6 separate regions of the Homo sapiens genome follow, and regions 1, 2, 3, 5 and 6 are each reported to be linked to region 4. Evidence: microRNA targets listed by miRTarBase, many of them from high-throughput screens and not tested one by one. Region 4 holds a microRNA gene; each other region holds the end of a gene's coding sequence.
Evidence for each region. Region 4 holds the annotated microRNA hsa-miR-185-5p (UGGAGAGAAAGGCAGUUCCUGA, at 2,829-2,850, opposite strand). A microRNA usually pairs through its seed, bases 2 to 8, with sites in the 3' UTR of a target mRNA and lowers its output. Matches are read on the target gene's strand: a 7mer-m8 pairs with bases 2 to 8, a 7mer-A1 pairs with bases 2 to 7 and ends in A, and an 8mer does both.

Region 1: miRTarBase lists MRPL34 as a target of hsa-miR-185-5p. Seed matches in the 3' UTR shown: 7mer-A1 at 478-484 and 8mer at 713-720.
Region 2: miRTarBase lists OAS2 as a target of hsa-miR-185-5p. Seed matches in the 3' UTR shown: 7mer-A1 at 2,906-2,912, 8mer at 2,827-2,834 and 7mer-A1 at 1,775-1,781.
Region 3: miRTarBase lists NFATC3 as a target of hsa-miR-185-5p. Seed matches in the 3' UTR shown: 7mer-m8 at 3,191-3,197 and 8mer at 2,531-2,538.
Region 5: the mRNA of IQSEC2 is a reported target of hsa-miR-185-5p. Seed matches in the 3' UTR shown: 7mer-A1 at 1,496-1,502 and 7mer-A1 at 1,612-1,618.
Region 6: the mRNA of ARHGEF6 is a reported target of hsa-miR-185-5p. Seed matches in the 3' UTR shown: 7mer-m8 at 3,613-3,619 and 7mer-m8 at 3,592-3,598.

The regions. Positions count from the first base shown.
Region 1 is chr19:17,306,015-17,310,111 of GRCh38, forward strand. It overlaps MRPL34 (mitochondrial ribosomal protein L34), which reads left to right. Exons shown (of 2, transcript NM_023937.4): 2 at 152-829. The coding sequence ends at 365. DDA1 (DET1 and DDB1 associated 1) reads left to right here and starts at 3,549. Exons shown (of 5, transcript NM_024050.6): 1 at 3,549-3,643. The coding sequence starts at 3,641. RefSeq lists silencers at 112-171, 3,765-3,864 and enhancers at 2,852-3,413, 3,135-3,324, 3,414-3,977.
Region 2 is chr12:113,008,654-113,012,756 of GRCh38, reverse strand. OAS2 (2'-5'-oligoadenylate synthetase 2) reads right to left here. Exons shown (of 10, transcript NM_002535.3): 10 at 1,034-3,670. The coding sequence ends at 3,502. Among named protein-coding and RNA genes, the nearest start is that of OAS2, 32 kb to the right of the region's middle. RefSeq lists an enhancer at 2,906-3,075.
Region 3 is chr16:68,225,716-68,229,715 of GRCh38, reverse strand. NFATC3 (nuclear factor of activated T cells 3) reads right to left here. Exons shown (of 10, transcript NM_173165.3): 10 at 457-3,366. The coding sequence ends at 3,245. ESRP2 (epithelial splicing regulatory protein 2) reads left to right here. Exons shown (of 15, transcript NM_024939.3): 15 at 1-683. Among named protein-coding and RNA genes, the nearest start is that of MIR6773, 5.8 kb to the left of the region's middle. RefSeq lists an enhancer at 2,230-2,279.
Region 4 is chr22:20,031,900-20,036,002 of GRCh38, reverse strand. It overlaps MIR185 (microRNA 185), which reads right to left and starts at 2,864; the gene lies at 2,783-2,864. All of the region lies in intron 1 of TANGO2 (transport and golgi organization 2 homolog), which reads right to left. RefSeq lists enhancers at 1,747-1,816, 3,500-3,719.
Region 5 is chrX:53,230,600-53,234,684 of GRCh38, reverse strand. It overlaps IQSEC2 (IQ motif and Sec7 domain ArfGEF 2), which reads left to right. Exons shown (of 15, transcript NM_001111125.3): 15 at 1-1,809. The coding sequence ends at 466. Among named protein-coding and RNA genes, the nearest start is that of KDM5C, 7.4 kb to the right of the region's middle.
Region 6 is chrX:136,664,292-136,668,394 of GRCh38, forward strand. ARHGEF6 (Rac/Cdc42 guanine nucleotide exchange factor 6) reads right to left here. Exons shown (of 22, transcript NM_004840.3): 22 at 1,259-3,878. The coding sequence ends at 3,738. Among named protein-coding and RNA genes, the nearest start is that of CD40LG, 18 kb to the left of the region's middle. RefSeq lists an enhancer at 1,994-2,083.

The sequences.
Region 1 (4,097 bases), not on the chromosome of region 4:
GGCGCCACTCTTCACTGCCCGCGTGACCTGCCAGTGCCTTGCGCATTTTGCAGCCAGGCTCTGTCTCCGGGAGCCGAGGCTCAGAGAGGTTGAGCGCCAAGGTCACCCAGCGCCCCGTCTGACCTTTCTCGCCGTCCCTCTACCCACGCAGGTGGCTCCAGCCCCGGGCCTGGCTGGGGTTCCCAGACGCCTGGGGCCTCCCCACCCCGCAGCAGGCCCGGGGCAAGGCTCGCGGGAATGAGTATCAGCCGAGCAACATCAAACGCAAGAACAAGCACGGCTGGGTCCGGCGCCTGAGCACGCCGGCCGGCGTGCAGGTCATCCTTCGCCGAATGCTCAAGGGCCGCAAGTCGCTGAGCCATTGAGGATCGCGACGCAGTCGGCGGGACCCTCATGGAAGCATCGCCCTCGCCTCGGACCTTGCCTGGCGCTATTTTTGCAGGGAGCTGGGGAGCAGGAACGCCTCGGACCTGAGTGCTCTCCATATTGTGGGGTTGAAGTCTGGATGGGAGCTTGCCAAGTCCCTTTTTAGGCTTTTTAATTAGGAAGCATTTCGAACCTGCGCAACAGACCAAAGAACAGTACAAAGAACATCCGTGTACCCAGTACCCTGACTACCGACTACCTACAACCCGTCCCTGCCCCATCCTGAGTTCTTTTGAAGCTGATCTCAGGCATCGGATTATTTCTTCTGTAAATATTTCAGAATGTATCTCTCCAAGATGAGAGCTCATTAAAAGACAATTACAAAGCTTATCACATCCAAAAGAATTATCAATAATTTTGAAATATTATTAAACGTGTAATAAATGTTCAAAGTTCCACTTGCCTTATATGTGTCATAACTCTTTTTTTTTTTTGAGACAGTTTCCCTTTTGTTGCCCAGGTTGGAGTGCAATGGGGGGATCTCGGCTCATTAAAACCTCCGCCTTGCGGGTTCAAGCGATTCTCCTGCCTCACCCTCCCGAGTAGCTGGGATTACAGGCATGCGCCACCACGCCCGGCTAATTTTGTATTTTTAGTAGAGATGGGGTTTCTCCATGTTGGTCAGGCTGGTCTCGAGCTCCCGACCTCAGGTGATCCGCCCTCCTCTGCCTCCCAAAGTGCTGGGATTACAGGCATGAACCACTGCGCTCTGTCCCCCAGGCTGGAGTGCAGTGGCACGATCTCGGCTCACTGCAAACTCCCTCTCCTGGGTTCAAGCAATCTCCTGCCTCAGCCTCCCGAATAGCTGGGATTATAGGCGCCCACCACCACACCCGGCTAATTTTTGTATTTTTAGTAGAGACGGGGTTTCAACCATGTTGGCCAGGCTGGTCTCGAACTCCTGACCTCAGGTGATCTGCCTGCCTCGGCCTCCCAAAGTGCTGGGATTACAGGTGTGAGCCGTCATGCCCAGCCTGTGTCATAAATTTTATAGGTCTGGGAAGACTGGTGGAAAACTGTGTGTGTGTGCGGGGGGGTGTTTGTTTTTGAAACAGGGTCTCGCTCTGTCACCCAGGCTGGAGTGCAGTTGTCGGATCCCTGCTTACTGCAACCTCTGCCTCCTGGGTTCAAGCAATTCTGGTGCCTCAGCCTCCCAAGTAGCTGGGATTACAGGTGCATGCCACCACGCCCAGCTAATTTATGTATTTTTAGTAGAGGGGAGTTTCACCATGTTGACCAGGCTGGTCTTGAACTCCAGCCCATAAGGAGTTTGAATCTTCCACTTGTCCCTTGGGGATGTTTGATTTTGAGCAAGAATTTAACACTGTGAGGTGCATTTGTCGCCTATAAAATGCAGTGCTGGTTTCTCCTCTGCTCTGTTGCTGTTGGAGTAATAATACTTAGTAGCTTCCACTTAGCAACTTCACTGTGCAATTGCTGTGTGCTGGGTGCCCATTCTTTGCCCTGGAAGTCAGGAAGGCAGTTTGGACACAGAGGTGTCAGGGCTGGGAGGGGGATTGTGAGGGCTGTAGGACTTCAGGGAAGGTACCTGACTTGCCTTTTTGAAGAATGCAGTCAGGGAAGTCTTGGAGGAAATGGCAAGGTCTGGGAGAGCCCAGACATAGAAGGAATTGGTTAGAGGTGAGGACACAGGTGGGCAATGAAGACCGCAGGTGCCCATAAATGGGGCCAAGGAGGTGGGATTGAATACTAGGGAGTTACGGGAGGTGGTTGAGCAAGACGGTGTCGAGGAGGAGCTAGGGAGTGTTATGGTTCTTATCTTCTAGGGCTGCTTTAAAAACGTAATAAACACAAGAAGATGCCGGCACGATGGCTCCCAGAACTTTGGGAAGCCAAGTCTGGAGGATTGCTTGAGGCCAGAAGTTCGAGACCAGCTTGGGAAACATAGCAAGACCCCTGTGTCTTTTTTTTTTTTTTCTTTTGAGAGGGAGTTTAGCTCTTGTTGCCCAGACTGGACTGTAGTGGCTTAATCTCGGCTGACTGACACCTCCGCCTTCTGGTTTTAAGCGATTCTCCTGCCTCAGCCTCTTGAGTAGCTGGGATGACAGGCGCCCGCCACCACGCCCGGCTAATTTTTGTATTTTAGTAGAGATGGGGTTTCACCATGTTGGCCAGGCTGGTCTCAAACTCCTGACCTCGTGATCCGCCCGCCTCGGCTTCCCAAAGTGCTGGGATTGCTGGGATTACAGGCGTGAGCCACCGTGCCCCGCCTTTTTTTTTTTGAGACAGAGTCTCCCTCTGTCCGCCAGGCTGGAGTGCAGTGGCGCGATCTCAGCTCACTGCAAGATCCGCCTCACTCACGGTTCACGCCGTTGTCCTGCTTCGGCCTCCGGAGTAGCTGGGACTACAGGCGTCCGCCACCACGCCCGGCTAATTTTTTGTATTTTTAGTAGAGACGTGGTTTCACCGTGTTAGCCAGGACGGTCTCGATCTCCTGACCTCGTGATCCACCCGCGTCGGCCTCCCAAAGTGCTGGGATTACAGGCGTGAGCCACTGCGCCCGGCTGGCTTTTTTTTTTTTTTTTTGAGACTGATTTTCGCTCTTGTTGCCCAGGCTGGAGTGCAATGGCACGATCTTGGCTCACTGCAACCTCCGCCTCCCGGGTTCAAGTGATTCTCCTGCCTCAGCCTCCCTACTAGCTGGAATTACAGGCGCAGAGATGGGGTTTCACCATGCTGGCCAGGCTGGTCTCGAACTGCTGACCTCAGGCGATCTACCCGCCTCGGCCTCCCAAAGTGCTAAGATTACAGGAGTGAGCCACCGCACCCGGCCGAACCTCGCATCTTAAAAACACACAGACACACAAAAGCTCTAGAGAGCCTCGCGGAGCTGTAAACTACAGCTCCCAAGAGACTTCGCGGCCGAGGCCTCCGCCCACTTCCGGATCTCACTTTCATTGCTTCCAAGTACCGGGAGGTGCTTTGCTTCTTCAACCGAACTTGACCACAATGGGAGGAGGCGTGGCAACCAATGGGCGCATGAGTTAGCTGGATGCGGCCAATGGAAGCGTGCAAAGCGCTCCTATGTGGGGGCGGGGCTAGACTGCACACCAATGACAGGGAGGTGGTGGCGCCATCAGTGTGGGCTGTGCCGTGGCTGGAAGTTACTGTGAGGCGGCGGCTAAGAAGGCGGCTCTGGTGGCGGCGGTGGAGGCTGAGGCGGCGGCCGAGGCGGCGACGGAGGAAACAGAAGATGGTGAGGATGGCCTCCAGGCCCCCACTCCCCCTCTGCTAGACAAAATGGCGCTGTGGTCCCACCCACCTCTAGTATCCCCCTAGGCCCCTCTCCGTTCTGCCCGGTCCCCTCAGGTCCGGCCCGCCCCTCCCACTCACCTGTGACCTTCGACCCCCGGACCCTACCGAGAGCTTCCTGCTGATCCCACTGCCACTCCTTCTCCGACCCCTGACCCCATCCAGGATACCAAGCCCTGACAACTCATTCATTTCCGGGTTGCGGCTCCCCCCGGAAATCGTCTGGGGTGGGGATGGGGTCCCGTAAGACCCCCTGGTCTGGCCTCGTTCTCAGCACGCCGGACCTGGATCTCTTCAGTTCAGGAGAATTTGGGAGGCCGGCCTGGGCCCCGGGGCGGGGGAGGGGGCTTGGCACCGCGATATGCAGGGCTTTGTCGCCAAAGGAAGTGCGACATCGC
Region 2 (4,103 bases), not on the chromosome of region 4:
GAAAAACTGAAATGGTCCTGTTCTGCATTTGTATGGCTTTGAGCAGCTCACCTTTTTCTTTATGGTCTTTCTCATCATATACATCTCACTTGGCACGTGTGGTAAACTGCCCTTCATTTTTCTTTTCTTTTCTTTTCTTTTTTTTTTTTTTTGAGACGGAGCCTCACTTTGTTGCCCAGGCTGGAGTACAGTGGCGCGATCTCGGCTCACTGCAACCTCCGCCTCCCAGGCTTAAGTAATTCTCCTGTCTCAGCCTCCTGGGTAGCTGGGATTGCAGGCATCTGCAACCATGCCCAGCTAATTTTTTGTAGTTTTAGTAGAGGTGGAGTTTCATCATGTTGTCCAGGCTGGTCTCAAACTCTTAATCTCTAGTGATCTGTCTGCCTCGGCCTCCCAAAGTGCTGGGATTACTGGTGTGAGCCATCAAGCCTGGCCCTTCATTTTTCTTTAAGGGATTTAGGGCTATGTGTTCCAGTTCCTCCAGCCAAGCCCTGTGAGGATGGGGACAGCGTCTCACAGTTTCTGCTTCCGTGTTTCCTGCCTATGTATCTAGTGCAAGTTTGGGCATCCAGAAGGCCCTGGTAACTAGTTGTAGACTGAGTAGATGTGTACTTAAAGTGGTCATTCTTTCATTAAATGTTTTTTATCATTTAAAAAACTTTTTAAAAATTATTTTTGCCTTTTCTTCTCATGCTTGTTTCCTGTATTCTTCCATTTTTCAACATCTTCATATATATTTCTTTTGCCTGCATCCTGGACAAGAGTAGTGGTGCATTCCAACACCTAATCTGTGACACCAGCTGACTGTCCTGCAATTTAAGTCAAGTCTGGCACTGACTACCTGGAATGTGTGTAGATCCCACAATTTAAAGAGCAAGGTCCTCACCAAGTCCACCCTTCTTTCAGACTCCAGCCATACATGGGGTCCCCAGGCTACCCACACCTCTGTCCGACTTGGTTACAAACTTGGGAGTTTCCATGACTTTCCTTCAGTTTTGATAATTTGCAGAATGACTCATAGAACTCAGGAAAATGCTCTACTTACAATCACCATTTTATTATAAAGAATACAAATGAAGAGCCAGACAAAGAGTATGTAGGGTGGCAAGCACTGGAAGGGCCCAGAGCTCAGGAGCCTTTGTCCCTGTGGAATCAAGATGCGCTACCTTCCTAGTACATTGGAATGTCTGCCAATCAGGAAGCTCCCCAAGCCTCACTGTCCAGAGTTTTTATTGGGGTTTCTTTACATAGGCAGCATTGCTTAAATCACTGGCCATGTTAAAATTGAACTCAATTTCCAGCCCCATCACCTCCTTGGAGATTGGGGGTGGGATGGGGCTGAAAATTCCAATGCTTTAACCACATGCTTGGTCTTTCTGGCTTGGCCAACTCCTTCCTTGAAACTAAGGGCCCACCATGGGTAACCTTGTTAGCATAAACCCAGGCATGGGTGAAAAGGGCTTGTTATGAATACAAAAGACACTCCTATCAGGAAACTCTAGAATTTTTGAAGCTGTGTGCTAGGAACTAGGCACAAAATCCAGATACATTCTTTATTGTATCACAACTGGTATATGCAACAGTGATAAAAGTTTAAGTGAGGGTATGTGAGGTTAAAGCACCTAGACCTTCAAGTATCTTTAAGGCTAAAGCCCAAGGAAAAAGTCTTTTGATTTGGCAAGAGGATACTCCTGGGTGGGGGGGAGAAAGGCAGGCTCAGAAGGAAAAGACAACAGCCTCATATAAATATGACAACAGTTATAATCTGAGCCTTTGGAGAGCTTGAAGTTCTAATGAAAGGGTTGGCTGGCTGCTGGCATAGAGGATGTCTGTGTCAGCAGGGGCAGAAAGGGTTTTGTATACAGAGGAAACAGACAGGACGTGGATGAGTTGGAAGCACCGAGAGCAAGATCACAGAGTTATGAGAACCAAGGGGAAAGTAAAGAGCTTTGCTTTGAAGACACAGAGGATTCCTTTTTTAGACTGGAAGGAAAAAGGAGGAGCTAATTGGAAAAATACAAGAAAAAAAATACAAGTTGACAGAAATAAGATGCACATAAAGTGGATGACAGCAACTATTTTTAAAGGCAGGCTGCCTGCAGAGAGGGAGTTCAGCAAGGCAAGACTTTATGAAAGGGTTTGCAGTCTTGATTGATTTCAAGAAGTCCAAGAAGCAAGGGAAGGAGGAATAGGGACCATCAAGGGAAGAATGGATGTGAGTGACTCTTTCTCACGGTGAGCCGAGTCTTTAAAAGCGATTGCCAGATGATCTCTAGAAGTTTCTTTTAGAATTATTATTCAGGATTCTATGGCTTCTGGATGAGAACATCTCATTGACAATAGGATGGATCCTAGCTCCACAACTTCCTGGTGTCTGCATTGTCTAAAAAGAAAAACATACGTGGGAGAGCAATGTCTCCTAATAGTTACAATCATTGCTTAAAAGAGTTAGGGGAAAAAAGGGGGGACCTGTATCTGGGAAGGTAACTATTGCCAGAGACAATTTTTTGGTATTTATTTATAATGCATATCTTAATAATTAGAGCTAACCCCACGGTTGGCTTGGCCACCTCTTCCCTACATTCCCCCCAGGGTTGGGGTGTAGGGTTCCTCTAGTGCAAGGGTTCTCACCTAGGGCAGAAGACACATGATAAAGTCTCAAGACACTTTTAATTGTCACAACTGGGTGGCATCTACTGGGTACAGGCCAGAGATGCTGCTCAACATCCTACAATGCACAAGAGAGCCTCCAAACAAAGAACTGTCTAGCCCCAAATGTGAGTAAGTATCAAAGTTGAGAAATCCTGCTTTAAAGAAAGAACCTGGTGGAGAGAACCAAGTATATCTGGAGGGAGGATATCCTGGTGGAATATATCAGGTATATCTTGGTAGGTAGGGAGGGCTTTGGAGAGGTGTGGCAGACATCCTTGGGTGGCCAGTGCAACCCACGTCCACAGTCATCTTTGTAGCCACCTTCAAGTTACAGGTAGCCACATGACATTTCTGAGCAATGAAATGGAAGAAAATTTGCGGATGAAACTTCTAATAAAATCACTGTGTTCTTGACCTTTGGGTATCTTTTCCTTCTTCCTGCTTGGATTGCAAACCTGCCATCTGGAGGCACCGTGGCCGCTTTCAGGGCCATAAGTACTCAAATTAACAGCTAAAGAGGGTGGAGCCAAAAGCCAAAGGCAGAAAGATCTGTGAACCCAGGGGAACGTTTGACAATGTCTGAAGACTTTTGGTTGTCACTGGGAGAGGAGGGCTAGTGGCATCTACTGGGTAGAGACTAGGGATGCTGCGCAGCACCCTACAGTGCATGAATCTGGGGTTACCTGCCTGAGGATCACTTGTAGTGGGGGCTTAGGGGGCTGACCAGCTGTTTAAGCTCCTGTGAGCTGGGTTTCCTTTATTTGTGTCTGAGTTAATTTCAGGTTGCTACAGTAGGAGAAGTTCTTTGATTCAAGCCTGTTACAGGGCTATTTCCAGACAACGCCTCCTTTAGATGACTTTTACCGGCACTTTCCAAGGTGGTATTGGGTTTCCAGTCCCATCCTTGAAGCAGGGAGAGGATAACCATTCCTTTGCTTCTTTTGCCAGAAGATGCCAACACCAACGGTCCCCTCCACCCACGTCACCTGTGGGTTCGGCTGGGTCCAAGATCACAGGCCTGAATGAGAGGTTAGAAGGCATTAGGAGATTCCAAATCCCAGTGACTTCAGAATTTGGGGTCCATCCTATAATACTTTCAGCAATAAGACAATGTGTTCTTACAGCTTAGATGTCAGCAACTCAAATTTACTAGTAGGGTTCAAAGTAACTTTCTAGAGGCCGCGTGCAGTGGCTCATGCCTGTAATCCCAGCACTTTGGGAGGCTGAAGTGGGAGGATCACTTGAGGGCCAGGAGTTCGAGAACATCCTGGCCAACATGCAGAAACCCCATCTCTACTAAAAATACAAAAATTAGCTGGGCGTGGTGGTGCGCACCTGTAGTCCCAGCTACTTCGGAGGCTGAGGCAGGAGAACCAGCTTGAACCCGGGAGGCAGAGGTTGCAGTGAGCTGAGATTGTGCCACTGCACTCCAGCCTGGGTGACAGAGTGAG
Region 3 (4,000 bases), not on the chromosome of region 4:
ATCTGGACCTCAGAGACCATGTTGTGCCAGGGGTGGTCCCACCTAAAGATGCTAGCCCCTCTCCAGGTGGGCATAAGGAGTAACAGATGGCAAAACCACAAACTATTTTGATGGACTGTGCTGCAGTATCACCAGAAGACATTAGGGGGCAGTAGGCCCCCACACAAAACCTTCAGGCTTGAATTTTAAAGGGGAGGACTTTCTGCCAACTTTTCTTGTATGCCTTGGGAAAGCCAGTTGCCCTGAACCCAGCAGACACCATGGAATGTCCTTTGCACGCATTAAATGGTACAGAACTGAAGCCTCGGAAGCAATTTGGAACTCGATCTTCTCTTCCTTAAATGAAAAGTTATTGACCAAATGGACTTTTTAAAAGACACAGGACCCTTAACTTTGCCCCAAAGTGAGGGGCTCCACACCAACCCCAGGCGGAGGAACACTCAGACAGATTAAGGATACTGTTGACCTGTCACTGTTTATTATTTCAGCACTAAAACTGAGGAGCCTCAACTGCTGGCTCTTCTTCCCTTTGTATTTGTGTAAGGAGCACTGCACTCCCATAAAAGGTTTTAAAATACAAAATGTACAAGAACACACAATTCCAAGTGCTGTAAACATAACTGAGAACCAGTTCCTTTACTAAACATCCATTTTATAAAACACAAGGTTTCAATTTGAGCCCATCTGAGCCTTAAAGATCCATTCTGAATACCAAAAACAGGGCTTCACAGCCAGGCCCAGAAGAGGTCTGGTGATAATGGCTGGCCCTGGGTGGGGATAGTTTACACCCGGGCAGCAGCACCACACATGAACCCAAAGACATGTTCTTTTTAAAGCTGTTTTCAGCCATGTTTCTCTGTGCATCTCCAGTAAGCAGAAGGCTACCCATTCCATTCCTCAACCCAAGAGCTAGCACAGTTAGAGTAGGAGGGGGTGCGTACTAGCACGTGCCCAGTTGCTCAGTGCTGCTAGTAGAAATTGATTTGCATAGTCCAATGGATGTGTGCTTTAACACCACTATGTTGCACAAAAATTTAAGTCTTTATCTACAAAGCCAAAAAATATTGACTCTTAACACCAAAGCTTTTACAAAGCTGATATAAAACTGCTTACATAGTATACAAAGCTCTATTTTAAAATTTAATGTTTATTTTAAATAGGAAAGCATTTCTAGTGCTACAGGCATCAAGGTATTTAGAAGGCATCAAAATTTGGTGCATAGCAACTCTGGATCATAGAGGCTTTTAATTCTTGAGGGCACAAAGGGTATTGCAAGGGGAACTCTTGCAATAACCTCATGTGAGGCAGCTACACCAGGGGCAAAAGGGTAGGGGCAAGTCTGGCCATTTCTCTGGAATGTCAACCGAGAGGCCAACTTCTTGCCCCTCCAAAGGAAGCTGTGGGCGTCCAACCACAGGCCCAGAAGCAAATCTCACTATCCACATTCTGTGACACAACTCACTTTTCAAGAAAATTTGAAAACACCCAGCTCCAAGAGGGGCCACAGTGATCTGCTGAAGAATAGACCTTTTTCTCTAACTAACTTTAGGGGAGAAATCTAAAATATATTTTGTTTTTTTTAAAGACCATACTTCCTCATCCTGAGTCAACAGCTCCTAACCTACTGACAACAGGTGGTGGGCAATAGGCCAGCTCCCTTTCCCAGACCTGAACTGGCCTTAGTAGAGAGAGTCCTGGCATCAAGGGCCTGCAGTCTCCTGGAATAACAGCATCAGGCCTTCAACCAGCACACTGTCTCACATATAGGCACTCAAAAAATCTGCTTCCTGAATCAATGGAAGTATATTATTTCATTTGAAAGCATACTGCAAACTTCAGAGGCTCTGTAATGGGCCCAGGAACAGGTAAAAAAAATCCCATTAGGGAGAGGGGTAAGGGCAGGTTTTTTTTTTTTTTAAAGTACCCAACTCGGGTACCTCCTTTGGTAGACAGCAGGCTGCAGTTTCTGCTGGGCCCTGCCTTGGACACCAGTCTCACCAGCAGCAGCACCAGGGTGTCTTTGGTGTGGAGGGTCAGGTTATCACTTCTGGATGTGCTCAGAGCCTTCTGGGGAAAAGGCTGGTTTTTAGATCATACAGACAGGACAGGGTAGGCCAGAATCATTTCAGGCTATAAATAGAATGGCAGATAAGCCTTCCATGCCAGTGTGACTCTTAAAACCTTCCCATCTGGAGTCCTGTATTTTCTCTGCCCATGCTGATGTACTGCTCATTTGTGCTTTAGCTCTGCACACAGCCTGGCCTCTAGCTAGAGTTAGAACTGCAAAGCTGCCTAAACCACTGAGACTGGCTTCAAAGGTCACAGAACAGCCAAAGGCAGATGCTTCTGTTTGGAAAAGGTTCTACGACCAGATGACACAAACAGGAAGCGCACTCCACAGCCTACTAGTTTTTATGATGGCAAGAAATGAAAGTGACCAAGCTAGAACCCCACCATTCAGAGTCACCTTAAATGTAGCCATCTTACCCAGGGTCCTGAGGGAAAAAGCAATTTCAACATGGAGCCAGTATGGAGAGATTGCAAGATTACCTAGAAAGTTACCAAAAGGCTATGCTCTGGAATGTCTTTTTATATTCCAACACTTCAATGATGGAATGGTCTCTTCTCATTTTATCTAACAACAGTTTAGTTTTATAAAGAGGTATGAGCTACATTTGGCTTTATTTCCTATAAATCTATGAACGTCTTCAGGACACATGCTGACTTTCTGAGGCATAGGTGTGGGCTTGGGATATTTTTTTCTTTTTCTTTTTTTCTTTTCTTTTTTTTTCTTTTTTTTTTTTTTTTTTTTTTTTTTGCTTCTAGAAGGTCTTATCAAAAGTTCCTATTTTAAAAATTATCATAAAAACTAAAGGGCCCTTCAAATGACCATAAAGCAGTACAAATCACCAATCCTAGCTAAGTAACCAGGTCACCTGCAAAAGCAGCACCTCGGAAACAAGAGAGCCTGCTGCATTCACACTCAAAGCACCCATCATATAAAAGTATCCTAGTTAAATATAAAAAGCAAAGTTCATTTCCCCAAAGCTCAAACAGCCTATGCTGCTCCTGTTCTTTTGCCAAATCTACCCAAGGCCTGAGGTGGAGGAATGCTACTTTCCCCACAAATGGTGGGTCCCACTCCTGGCCCCAGACCTGAAGGCTGCAGAGTTGGAAACCCAAGGTCCAAGGAGAGAAACATGCTGAGAAGTTGGTGGTGGACACAAGGCTGCAGTAAGCACTGTTAGAGCCCATCAGATCTTCCTAAATCCAGGGACTCAGGACTCGGGAGGGGAGCCTGCCTGCTCACCCCTGCTCCTTGGGAAACAGAAATCTGGGACATGTCTCTCCCAATTATCTCGTTCACTGAAAAACAAGAAAAGGGAGAGTGATTAGTGACCTCTGAGTGATTAGCCATATGATGCCCAACGCTGAGCTCTACCTCAGACATTTCCCTTCCCATGGCTTTCTGTAAAGATAAAGGCAGTGTCTGAAGCCTGCTCCTGAGCTGAGTGGCATTAGAGATGGAAACATCGCTCCACAAACTACTCTGGACCTCTTTTTCTCTCTCATTCAGTTCATTTTGGGTTGGGAAGGGGGCTTACCCTCACTCTAAAGGTATGTTTAAATAAGTATTCACCTTACTCTAACTTTTCTTTAATTCATATCTCTTTGAGAAAGTTTTTATTTTCTACAATGCCACCTCCTATGTAAATGGAATGAAAATAAATGCTTTGGTCAGAATAAACCACTGTGATGTGGGGGTGATTTTGCTACTGTATCCTAATACAAGCACTCTTTATTATGTGGGGGCATTTCTGTTGTTTGTGATCTTTTCTGATTGGAGGCTCTAGCTTTTCTGTTAATTTCTCTGATGTCCTAAGCATCTCAGGGAGGTACAGTGCTCTGTGAGGTCCAGAGCAAAGAATTTCCATCTTACAGAACTAACATAGAAGGGAACATCCCAAATCCCCCAAATAAGAACCTTTAGTTCTCACAT
Region 4 (4,103 bases):
AACTTCTTTGGTTCGGGTGAAGGCAACTAAGTGCGGGGAAAGTGGAGGCCGACAAGCACACATCAGCTATCCAAGCAGGGTGGCCTAGTATATCCTGTTTCTTCTGTAGTTTGCTGAGCTAAGCCAATTTAAGACACTTTGTCTTGGAAATAGACCACTGTATACATTCTTCCTTCAAGACTGTCCCCCACATGCACATCTCCTCCCCTGCAACAGCACCAAACCCACCCCACACGCCACCAGTGGGGGCAGCCCTGCCTCCGCCTCCAACAGCATGGCCCACTCACCTGGGATGCAGGCCCTACAGGTCCTGCTCAGCACACACACTCGCCATCCCACAGGACCCGAAGGCCCCACACACCCACAGCAGCTGGCATGGACACGTGCCGGGGACACGCTGGGTGACTGCACACTTAGCATACACCTCGTCCCCACCCAGGGACCTCTGGGGCCCAGAGCAGGCAGTTTTCCACAATGCAAACGAGTGCAGAACGGAGATTAGATTCCGAGGCCACCCAAGGGTGACACCCAAGTTCCCTGAAATGTGCACATGTGCAATGATTTAGTGACACGGCTCCAGGGCAGAGCCAGTGCTCACAGCTGGGACATGGGACAGCCAAGAAGCTGTTCAAATACTGAAGAGACCCAAAAAGATTCCTCTGAGAAAAGTCTAATGAGTGGGGACGGAGGTGAAGAGGGCTCAGTGTATGTGCCTCCATAGGCACGGGCATTAGGGATGGCCATTGGGGACCATCTGCTCCAGTGAGGAGCTGGTGGCTGTGCAGTTGAAGTATTGGGATAGCAATAAGCGCCACGTGCAGACGCACTGGGTCAGGGGGATGGGCAGCCATTTGAGATGGTCTGCTGGCCACCACTCTGCATAGGATGGGAAGCTAAAGGGTGTGTTGTTGCAAGGGGGCCCTGTGGGAAGCAGACTGTGGGGCTGGAAGTGGGTTGGGTCCCCTTGCCGGGTGCCCTGGAAGCGCCCACAGGGGGCCATCATCCGAGGGTGGGCAGGCTACTAGGGGCAATCCTTTTGGTAAAAACAACTCAAGATGCTGGATGAAATATGAAAACATCTTAAAAATTGCCAGGAGCTGATGAGCTCATGCAGCATTTGGCCAACAGTTCGGAGAGCGTGGCCCACAGAGGACAGCAGAACACAGTGGCCAATCCTGCCTGAGAGCGTTTGCCCACTGAACACACTGGGGCTCATACTCTGGTGGCCTCGGGGGCGAAGGAGACAGAAGACAAGGTCCAGTCACCCCCACAGGATGAAGAACCTAACAGAAGACTCTCCTCTAAGTTAGGCTGGGACTCCAAAGAGCGATGCTTAGGGAGAGATGAACTACAGCCGCAGCCACCCCCAGGGGTTATGGGGACATTGCACATAAGTGAAGGGAAGTTTCTGAGAAGCTGTGGCACAGCCAGCCGTCCAGGTCCACACTGGGGGTACAAGGACCCACAAGCCAAGCACAGTTTTAAGGGGTTCCAGCACTCGTAGTGCCCCTGTGCCTGAAGTTCTCTCTGGAGAAAGATACCTTCATCCTATACTTCAAAGAAGTCTCAAAATCATTTTTCAAAGACCAGAAGCAGTACATAGTCAGAAAGAACCACATAATGAAAGAAGCACCATGAGCAAGAACCAGCAGAAAGATAACCGTACATGCATCATCAACCAACCATGCTCTGATGGCAGAAAGAAAACAGACAGCTCAGAAACATCTGCAGGGCAAAGGAAGTGATGAAGAGCAAACTGGGTTTACAAAGCAGCAAAAGGAACTCGGTTTTTTTTTGTTGTTGTTGTTTTGTTTTTGCTCCTGTTGCCCAGGCTGGCTGGCATAATCTCGGCTCACCGCAACCTCCGCCCCCCGAGTTCAAGCAATTCTCCTGCCTCAGCCTCCCGAGTAGCTGGGATTACAGGCATGCGCCACCACGCCCAGCTAATTTTGTATTTTTAGTGGAGACGGGGTTTCTCCATGTTGGTCAGGCTGGTCTCCAACTCCTGACCTCAGGTGATCCACCCACCTCGGCCTCCCAAAGTGTTAGGATTACAGGCATGAGCCACCATGCCTGGCCAAAAGAACTCTTAGGAAGCTATTTTAGAAATGAAAGCTTCAGTGACTGCACATTAAAGCTCAGCTGTGGGTTTAAGAGCAATCAGGTGCAGCTGATGATGCAGAACCATCCCGAATGCAGTGCAGGAAGATGGGGAACACGCTGGGCTTTGGGAGTGCACCCAAGGTGCCACTGATGGGGTGGGCCCAGCACTCACCATGTGGCCAGAAGACACAAGTCCCTTTACTCTGGAGGAGCTGGTCTTTCCTGCACATGAGAACCCCTGGCTGCAGTCACTGGAGAAGCCCTGCCAGCTGGTCTCTACTGGAATCCCACTGGCCTGGAGCCCAGGGCTGCCCAAGGCCTGCTCACCAGGGACATGCTCCTCTGGGGTGTTAGAGAAGGCCGTTGGTCTCAATCAACTTCAGCCGACCTCAGCCCTCCCTGGGCTGCACGCCCAGCTGCTGGCAAGGCCATGGATGAGGGCAGTTCTGGCCACTGATACACGTAGGACAGACAGGCAGAAAGGCACCCCCAGTTCAGCTGCAGGACCCCACCATCCTAGCTGGCCAGGGTGCAGGGGCAGCAGACCAGCCCTCCAGGCACCAGTGGCAGGGAGGGCTCCATGGTCCAAGGGAAGGCCATAAACAGATCTCCGGACAGCCTGGCACTGGAGGTGTGGGCGCAGAGCCAAGGGCTGTGGCCTCGACGAAGACGCGGTCATTGGGAGGGAAGGACCAGAGGAAAGCCAGCCCCTGGGGAGGGGACCATCAGGAACTGCCTTTCTCTCCAATCCCTCGCCCCCTGCTCGAGCCAGGCCCACTGCCCACCGGCCCCCAACCCAGCTCTAGCCAGCAGGTCTCCCCCTCCCCCTGCCAGCTTCACCTCCCCCGACCTGTGACCTTGCCTTTGCCTGGGCCCCTGTGTGCTCCCTAAGCCAAGCCCTGCAGGTTCCCTAGGTCCTACAAGGTCCCCACACAGGCCCACCACAGCATTCCAACACCCTCTCATGCCTGCTGACTTGCCAGGCTCTGGGAGGGAGCCATGGATATAGTCCTTGTCCTTTTGGTCACCATATCTTGATCTGGGCGCAGGGCATGTGGGCACACGGGTGGCCAGGACCACTTCCCACAACTTCCACAGGTCCCATCACACCAGGTGAGGCTGGGCTCCTCAGGGCATCTCTTGTGCCACACAGAGCTCGCCCTCAAGGTTGCCCGAATTGGCCAACTCTACAGGAGGGTTGGTGTCCCAGGGAGAATCGTGCCTGGCTTTCCAGGTGAGGCTCCGCCCTGCCTGTCCCCACCCCTGCCCTGGGCTCAGCACTTGGGCCAAGCCCAACCAACTCTCAGCATGTCCTTGGCAGTCCAAGAAGGCCAGAGTGGTCAAAGCCATGCAGGGTTGGCCCTGAGGCCCAGGCGGCCAGAACCAGACCACAAAGAGCAGCTGGAGGAAGAGGCAGGCAGGAGGGTCTGGGGTCCAGTCAGCAGCCTTGCCCTGGGTCTCAGAGGCCACAGCCCAGAAGCATCTGAACATCTGCAGGAAGCCACGCCCAGTCTCTGCATCCTGCACAGGACCCCGCCTGCCCCAAGGGGCTAAGACCACCAGGGCAGCCTGCACACAACCACCAGGCTTGCAGAAGCAGTCAGATGGCCACACGCCCATCCTCTCCAGGCGGAAAATGCTTACCCCTCTCCATTCTGTCAACTGGCCTCACGGCCACCGGGATAGCAGTTGGGCAAGTAGGTTACAGGGCGGGTGGGGCAGGTGACGCAAAACCTGGCTGCCAGGGCGGGTCCAACCCCAACCGGAAGGAGGCTGGGCCAGGGCACCACAGGTGGGAAGATGCTGATGAGCTCCTCCCTGTGCTGTGTGCTCTGCAGCTGTGATCTCATCTCAAGAGTCCCAGGTCACATGGCAGGGATGGGCAAGGTGAGCCTGGAGGGGCTCATGGTGGGGCACCTGCTGGTTGGGCTAGAGGTGAAGAAGCAGTGAGCTGGCCACCCCGAGCAGGCACACGTGGGATGCTGGGATCAAGTGGGCCT
Region 5 (4,085 bases), not on the chromosome of region 4:
TACCTTGGGCCGGCCAGGCAGGGCACCCAGACGGGGGGCTGGAGGACACCCTCAGTTTGCTCCACATGGCCGCCACCCCCTGCACCAGCCCACATCCCCACTGCCCCTGTACAGTCCTGCCCCCCAGCACCCTCCAGCCCACAAACAGGGCCCTAAGCACTTCATCTTCAGCCACCACCCACAGATGATGCCAGCAGCAGGCGCGGCTGGGGGCCCTGGATCCCGGCCACCAGGGGGCTCCTACTCCCACCCCCACCACCCCCAGTCACCATTGTCACCACACTCACCCATCCCACCCCACCCCTCCTATCCACCCCTCCCCCCACCCTCCCCTCACACCCCGCACTCACCCCTTCCACCCACCTCCCCCCATGGCCCGCTGCACGCCTCTGGGCCCCCTGGCACAGCCAACCCCCCCAGTGCAAACCCCAAGGCCAAGCCAAGCCGGATCAGCACCGTGGTCTGATGAATGGAGAGAGTGAGCTGGGGAACAGGAAAGTCTGGGGAGCCACAGGAGAGGGACCTTGCACCCTCTTTGCTTCCTCGGTTTTTTCAAAAATATATATACACATAGCAATGTCCTCCTCCCCATGTCCTCCCTGCCTTGGGACCCGTCCTCTCACCCCCAGCAGTTGCCATGGGGTTTCCTTCCAGATTCGAGGATCCTTGCCACTTGAAGCCTGGACTCAGGGTGCTCCAGCGCTGGGGAGTGGTGAGGGCCTTCCAGAGATCCTCGTACTCTTTCTCCCGTCTTCTTCTTCCCCACTTTTCCCTGGAGGTCTAGCTCTGTGGCCTCAGACCTCTGGGCCTGTGTGAGCTCTCTGTGAGCTCTGGCTGGCGGAGAAGGGCAGGTGTCCGGAGCTGTCGGGGTGAAGGCTTCCCTGGGGCTCCTCTGGCCGTGTGGGGCTAGGAGAGCGCTCTGTAGAGTTGTGGCCAAACTTCAGCTGGCTTGGCCCTCTCTCTGACCTCAGGGCCTGGCCACACACTTCCATGTGTCTTTTTGCCTGCTGGAGGACACGGACCATTGATGCACTTGGTGGGTGGGACCCTGCTTGTGTTGGCCCCACGTGGGGCAGTGCTTCCTCTCTCGAGCCAGTCTATGCCCTTTCTCCAGTAGGCCCCAGCCCAGACCTCTTCGGCTTCAGGAACTTGCCTCGCCCTGCAACGTTCTTATCCTGATCAAAGTCCAGACAGGTTTTGGGGGGGGCTCAGGTCTGGGATGAGAAGGGCACTGCCCTCCCTCACCCATATTGCATGCCCCCCCGCCATTCCCTTACACCTACCCCACCTACAACTGAAGACAATGCACTTTACAGATATCACCCACACACACCTCGCTGGGGCAGGGGCACCCAGCATCAGCCCTGGGGAGAGAGGCTCCCAAAGGGCCACCATGAGCCCAAGATATCCTTCCTGAGGCAGAGATTGAAGCCATCAGAGCTGGGGTTGGGAGCCAGAATGCCTGAGTCCTTCTGTCCGTCAGAATCTCCGCTGCCTCTCCAGCCCTTTTGCAGCCCTGTTTATTTATTATAAATATATTTTTTACAAGCCCCAGCTCCTCTTCTTGCCCCGCATATCCAGCTCCTCACTCAGCTCCTGCCTCCCTCTCCCCTCTCCACCATGGGCTGCAGTATAGACAGACAGATGGACCCTGGCTGTACGAAGGGCCAGGGCCACTGGGGCTTGGGGGCGGGGGAGGGTGGCAGTGGGAGGGGCTGTATGGAGAGGAGCTGGGGTTCAGGCATTGTCTTTTTTCCTCCTTGTATATAAGAATGTATATTTGATGCCTCATAAAAGACCTTGTGCTCACCTCCTGCCTCTGCCTCCTACTTCTGCGCCCCTTCCCCACTGTGGAGCCCATGGAGAGAGGCCTTAGCCCAGGGAGGCAATGCGCTAATGGTAGAAATTCAGGCACCTGGGTGGACGAGATGCTTTGCTTGGAGGGAGGTGGGAGTGAGGGAGGTTTTCCTATCTCATTTCATACACAGTTTGTGCGACAGAGTGGCAAGAGTATGGGCTTTGGAGTTGATCCAGTTCACATCCTGGGGTTTTCACTTCCTAGGCATGTGAATTCGGGAGAGTCACCCTCTCTGAGTCTCAGTTTCCTCAGTGTAAAACTTGGGGTGATAAGCCATTGCCACATGGAGATATGATGATTCCCAGGGGTAATGGGTGCCAAGGAGCCAGGACAGAGCTGAGCAAGTTAGTTCCCTTGTCTTCGTTTCATAGGATGAATGCTTCCTTCCACTCTTGGGGCATCTCCTCTCACCCTGGATGTGGCTGGCCTGGCCTGGCCTTGGAGCTCCTCCTCATCCCCACAATGGCTGGCCACATTTCTATCCTTGAGGGTAGGGGAGTGATTTGGAAGGCACAGGGCTAGATACATTTTAAGAGTTCTGCATATACACTTAGGATGTCAGATAACAAAGAGCTGGACTCCCTTTCGTTTACAGAGAAGGGGACAGGCTGAGAGAAGGGAAGAGTCTCTCCCGAGGCCACTCAGCAAGTCAGGATGGGGTTTCCTGACTTCTAGCCCCAGGGCCCTTTCCAGTCCTCCCAAACCTCTTCCCTCCGAAACGGACGTGTTTCTAGCATCACTGATTATGTCCTGGATCTTAGCCTAGCGCAGGAGAAGTGGGGTTGAGCCATGGTTCTTGGTTAGAGTCAGCAGGGTCCCCAGAAGCAGCATTCAGTTACTGTTTTTGCTGCCTTCCTAGAATCTGGAATGGCCTCTAAAAGGGAATGGTTTGGATGGCCCCGCTCTTAGCAGCTCAGACCAATTCTTTGTTTTCTTCCTTGTATGCATGTTTAAAGGTGTCCCAGGGAAGACAACTAGCAAAAGCAGCAGCTGGGGCCACCTACGCATTTGATGCCGCCTCATGGACCAGACTTGAGGGTTTGAAGAGCTTAGACCCACAGGGTCCTGAATCAAGTCCAATCAACATTTTTTAGTTTTCTTCCCTGCTGGACCAAGCTGCACGATCATTTCCCCACCTTCAACTTGATTCTGGTTGCATTTTTCCAAAGCTCAGCTTTTAGCGCTCAAATCCTGGCTCGGTGACTTGCCTGTGCTGCATTTGGCAAGTCACCTAGCCCTTCAGAGCCTGGCCTTCCACCTGTAAGATGGGGATAACAACCTTGCAGGACAGTTAACAGATGCATGTGAAGTGCCTACCTCATGCCAGACACACAGTAAGCCACCTACAGAAACCCCTTATCTTGACATGGGAGGTGTTCCACAAGGTGGCCCAGCCAATCTCTGTGGTCCTAACTCTCATTCCTCACCCACACATTGGCCATCCACTTACTATTCCCCAAAAATGCCTCTGTGTACTTTCCAAACTCAGCATTTTACTTGTGGCTTTCCCCCCTGCCACAATACTCCCCCCAACATCCCTGATGAAGGTTTTCCCAACCCTTGCAAGATGGGCTTGAAGAACCCATCCTTCACAAAATGTGCCCTTCATCACATACTCTGAGATCCTTCCCCACCAGGCCTTAAGTGGCTTGGGAGTGACACTGGTCTGAATCATCTCCATCCAGAACATTGCCCCATATAGTGCCTGGCACAGCACAGATGGCACTAAAATTTTGTTGATCAAATGAATGAATGAATGAATGGTTCTAAGTCTCAGAGTTAGATATCTTTGCATTGGTTGATTTATTGATTGATGCAACCTGTGTACCAAGTTTCCGGGCCCCTCTGGGAGCTCCTCATGCTTCCTTCAACTGTTTCCTACGTTCTTCTCCTCCAGTCCTCATTGCAGTCCCAGCGCTGGGCTGTCCATGCTCCTCACTCCCTCCACCCCTCCAGAAATGCACTGTCCAGACTGTGGAGGGGGTAGTTCATCTCCTCACCTCCCCATTTCTCTGAGGACCCAAAGACAGCAAGCCCACTGACTATTCTTACATCAAAGGTGCTGCTGCCAATCCCTCTGGGGATGCAGATGGGGACAGACAACACATAACAAAGAACAGAACTGCTTGAACCCGAGAGGCGGAGGTTGCAGTGAGCTGAGCGAGCTCGCGCCACTGCACTCCAGCCTGGGTGACAGAGCAAGACTCTGTCTCAAAAACAAACAAAC
Region 6 (4,103 bases), not on the chromosome of region 4:
AGGATCGAAAAGCCAATGGATTTGTCAATTATAAGCTTAATAGTGACTTCACAAAGGTGGATGGCTAAGGTAGGAACCTTAGCATGTACCAAGTGTGCAGGAGGATACGTGATAGAGAGAGCATGGGTCCAAGAGTCAGACAGACTAAGGTTTCAAATTCCAGCTCCACCATGTACTAGCAAGTTACTCAACATCTCTGTGCCTCTGTTCATTTGTAAGTGGAGATAACAATAGTAAATACTTAATAAGGTTGTTGTGAGGCTTACATGAGCTTAATCGTGTAAACCACTTAGTACAGTGCCTAGCACACATGAGATGCCATGTTCTATCTATTGGCTCAGAGCAGGAATCATAAACCACTGAAGGTATCTCAGGCAGAAAGATAATCAGTTGTCTACAAAACCATTGGGCTACATAAGTGGAAGTCAGGGGAAGTCAGGAGGCTGCCACTGGACTAATGGCTTCAAGGTCATATCATTGCAGTTGTGATCCACATGTTAGGAGGCTGCTGCCACCACTACAGTCTCTCACTCACAAAGCTGTGAATAGACACACTGGAATGTGGAGTACAGAAGCCACAAACACATCTTTGGAATCACCTGCTGGCCACCAAACCCCAAGAAGATAGCCTCTGCCCAACTTAAGCCTTCCAAATTTTGTTGGCAGAAGTGAACATGTATCTGAACCCACATTTTATCCAGAACCCTAGCTGCAAGGGAGTCTGGGAAATTGATTTTTCAGCCTTTATGTTTTTGGAAAGAAACAGAAAAGGGGTAGGAATGCATGTGGAGCAGCAGATAATTTCCACCTCATCAATCTTTAAGTGGAACGAATATTTCCATCCTGAGTGCTGACACCAGCATTCCAACTGTGGTCAAAATATAGGATTATCACTGATTGACAAAATCCTGCCAAATTCAAAGAGGAATCAGGACAGGAATAAATATCAAGGGATAAGCTTGAGCAGGAAAATACATTTTTCTCTAATATCAAAAAGCAGATGGTGAGCAGGGATATAATTTATAGGTTTGGGCCAGAAGAAGAGAGGTAGAGAAGTTAAGGAAGGTTCTGTCTCAGGGCATGTATTATCTCTGTAAAGTTGGGAGCAAATGTCATCTGCCCTGAGTGAAAAAGGTTGAGACTGGCTAGAGGGCTTGGTGAGAGCAGACTAGCTAATGAGGGAAATGGGAGAGGAAGCTGACACAGCACAAGAAATCTTTCTGCACACCGGCTAGCAAAAAAAGAAGCAAAAGACTTATTTTTATAAAGCACTGTTTATTTTTATGTATTGAAAATGTCCATTTTAAAAGTCTTCAAAATAAAAACAAGTTAGAAAATTTGAGCTTGTGTTAAGAAGGGGAAGGACAGAAAAGGAACTGAAAGGCCTCTACGGGCAGCAGTTTAATTACAGGGCAACAGGAACCCATTTATAGAGTATTGTAAACAACACAACTATGGCGACACTGCTCTCAGATTAACATGGCTTCATTTCCTTTATATTATAGTTTAGTGTGTAAGCATGGTTACCACTCTGCACAAGCTTCGTTATCCAGAGTACCGAGGGCCCCTCATCAGAAGGGCCAAGTCCCCGAAACATGCATATGTACTCATCACTGTAAAATGAAGACCTTTCAATATTTTCAGCAATCAACTAAAGTATTCCGTAATCACAAAAATGTTTCCTATAGATGCAGTTTGCACATTTATTGCAAGCCATTGACTAACCACAGAATGGGCAGATGTGAAGATCTGTGTTGATGTTGTTGGTGGTGGTGGTAGTACTGATGTTTTTAATTTTTAAGTGAAGGATGTTATATCTAAATGGCTGTGCTAAAAAACAGAACAACAGCCATTCCTAGAAATTTCTTTACTCTTCAGCTTCCAAACACGGCTGTGTGTGGTTGGCTGATGTTGGACTGCAAAAATAGTCCATTTCCTGTGGATGGTGTAATTTCTGCTGTGCAGCAAGCAGACAACAGCCCTGTACCATGTAGCTATGGGACCTTGAGACTCTCAGTACCAAAAATAAAAAGGGCTCCTCAGCAAGCTGGGGGTTTCAAACTTCAAGTTTTGTTTTTTCAGAGACAGAGGTGTCTCTCTGTTACCTAGGTTGGAGTGCAGTGGTGTCATCACAGCTCACTGCAGCCTTGACCTCCTGGGCTCAAATGATCCTCCCACCTCAGCCTCCTGAGTAGCTGGGACCACAGGTGTGGGCCACCATGCCTGGCTTCAAGTTTGGTTTTTAAACAATATTTGCAAAACCCACATTTATAGGCATCCATCAAATATATTATAAAGGCAATTCTGATCAGCCCTTTGGCCTCAATTTCCAGTGACCTTCCCCATCTGGCCAAATTTCTCTTGTCTTTTGGGGAGGGAGGGGTGAGTGGCACTGAGCCTTAGGCCAACTTTCAATGGCGCTGAATTTGGATGTGTGCTGTTCTGTGACTGTCTTCTAAACCTGGTTTCTCACAGTTCTAGTTTCTGGGATAAAGTGGATGATGTGATTCAATGAGCAACTTGAGTTAATCAGTCCTGAATAATCCAGCACACAGCTACTAGAGGGGCCCTTTTGTTCTGGATGTACAAGTTGGACCAGAAGCATATTTCTGCAAATACTGCTTAGAGTCCCACCCAAAGAGGCCAATTAATATTACAACTTCTCACAGCATATATGAGAGAGTAATAAAGTGAATGAAAGCTGTCTAGTAGGGCACAATATCTTCTTAATGCAGATTGTTTTGAAGGATAAAACATCACAGTTTGAATATGCAACGTACATAAAGTAACTCCTCACAGTCTAACTACATTTTTTTAAAAAGTAAGCAAAGCACATACATACTAGTTTACACACCACTTGGTAAGGTTGGCTAAAAGTACTGGGGAAATAGAAAACTTACACACTAGGCAGAATGAGGGAAAGAAACCTATCATGCAATGGGAAAAGGCGGTCAACTCTGCTACTAAAAGGGAGGATTGTCCAGTAGAATTTGCTGATGGATTTGGTGTTGGTGTGGGTGACCAGAGCTTCTGCCCCCCTGAGTTACAATTTACATGACACAAAAGGAATAAGGGTACTACAGTTTTCTTGGTCTTATAGACAACATAGGGCAGTAATTTTAAAACCTGTGATTGAGGGGAGGCATGTGATGGTCTAAGGAAGGGCAGCTGGATCATTGGGCAGATGTGTTTGTCTTTCATCCTACTCAAGCCATAGTCTGGAAGATTTGCCTTCGGTAAATTAAGTACTAAGAGGCTTGCAGGTACAGGAAAGCCCTGGGGAAAAGTTGGGTTCACATTTAATAAGCCTTGGCCAGCTGCTTTGCAAGGGCAGCCAGCCCAAAGAATGTGACCTGAGGGCAATGGCTGTTGCAGAGGCACTGTGAACTGAAGGCAATCTGAAGACCTTTTAAGTAACTGGCCTGCATTCCCTTTCTCTTTCTTACTGAATGGAAAAGACTCTGAGGCCATCTCTACCACCACTTCCTGCTTTTTCACCTGTTGAAAAAAAAAATGAACAACCAACCAATAACCAAACAACAGCAAATGCCCAAGCGCGCACGTGCACGCACACACATATGCACACAGCGGGGAGAGAAAGAGAAGAGAGAGGGAGAGAGAGAGAGAGACTCAAACACAAAACAAAAGCCAAAGAAGTGAGCAAACTGAGTCAAATCATTCAGCGGGACATTTCAAGATGCCCTGAAGGCACACTCCACCCAGTGGCACAGTGATGGTTATGGAAGAATTGAGGTCTTGCTACTGGACTCGCCTCGAATACACTCATCTGTTTGCTTCAAAAGCCTCCGCACCAGCTTTTCTAGGTCCCTTCTTGATTTCAGTTCTTCTTCCAGGCATTGCTTCATTCTTTTATTTTCCTATGATGGGGAAAGATTTGTTGATTATCAAACAGAGGGGGGCCCTTCCAAGGGCTCCTCCTGCTCATCCTCGGGGCAGCTTTCATCACTGACTCTCTTTCTTTCCTCGACCTTCCCTCCCTCAGCATCTATGACAAAGCAGCCTGTCGATTCTCCTGCCTGTCTCTGGGAAACCTTTTGGATTCTTCTTCCCTGCCCTGATCCTCTTCTAATTTAACTTGCTTT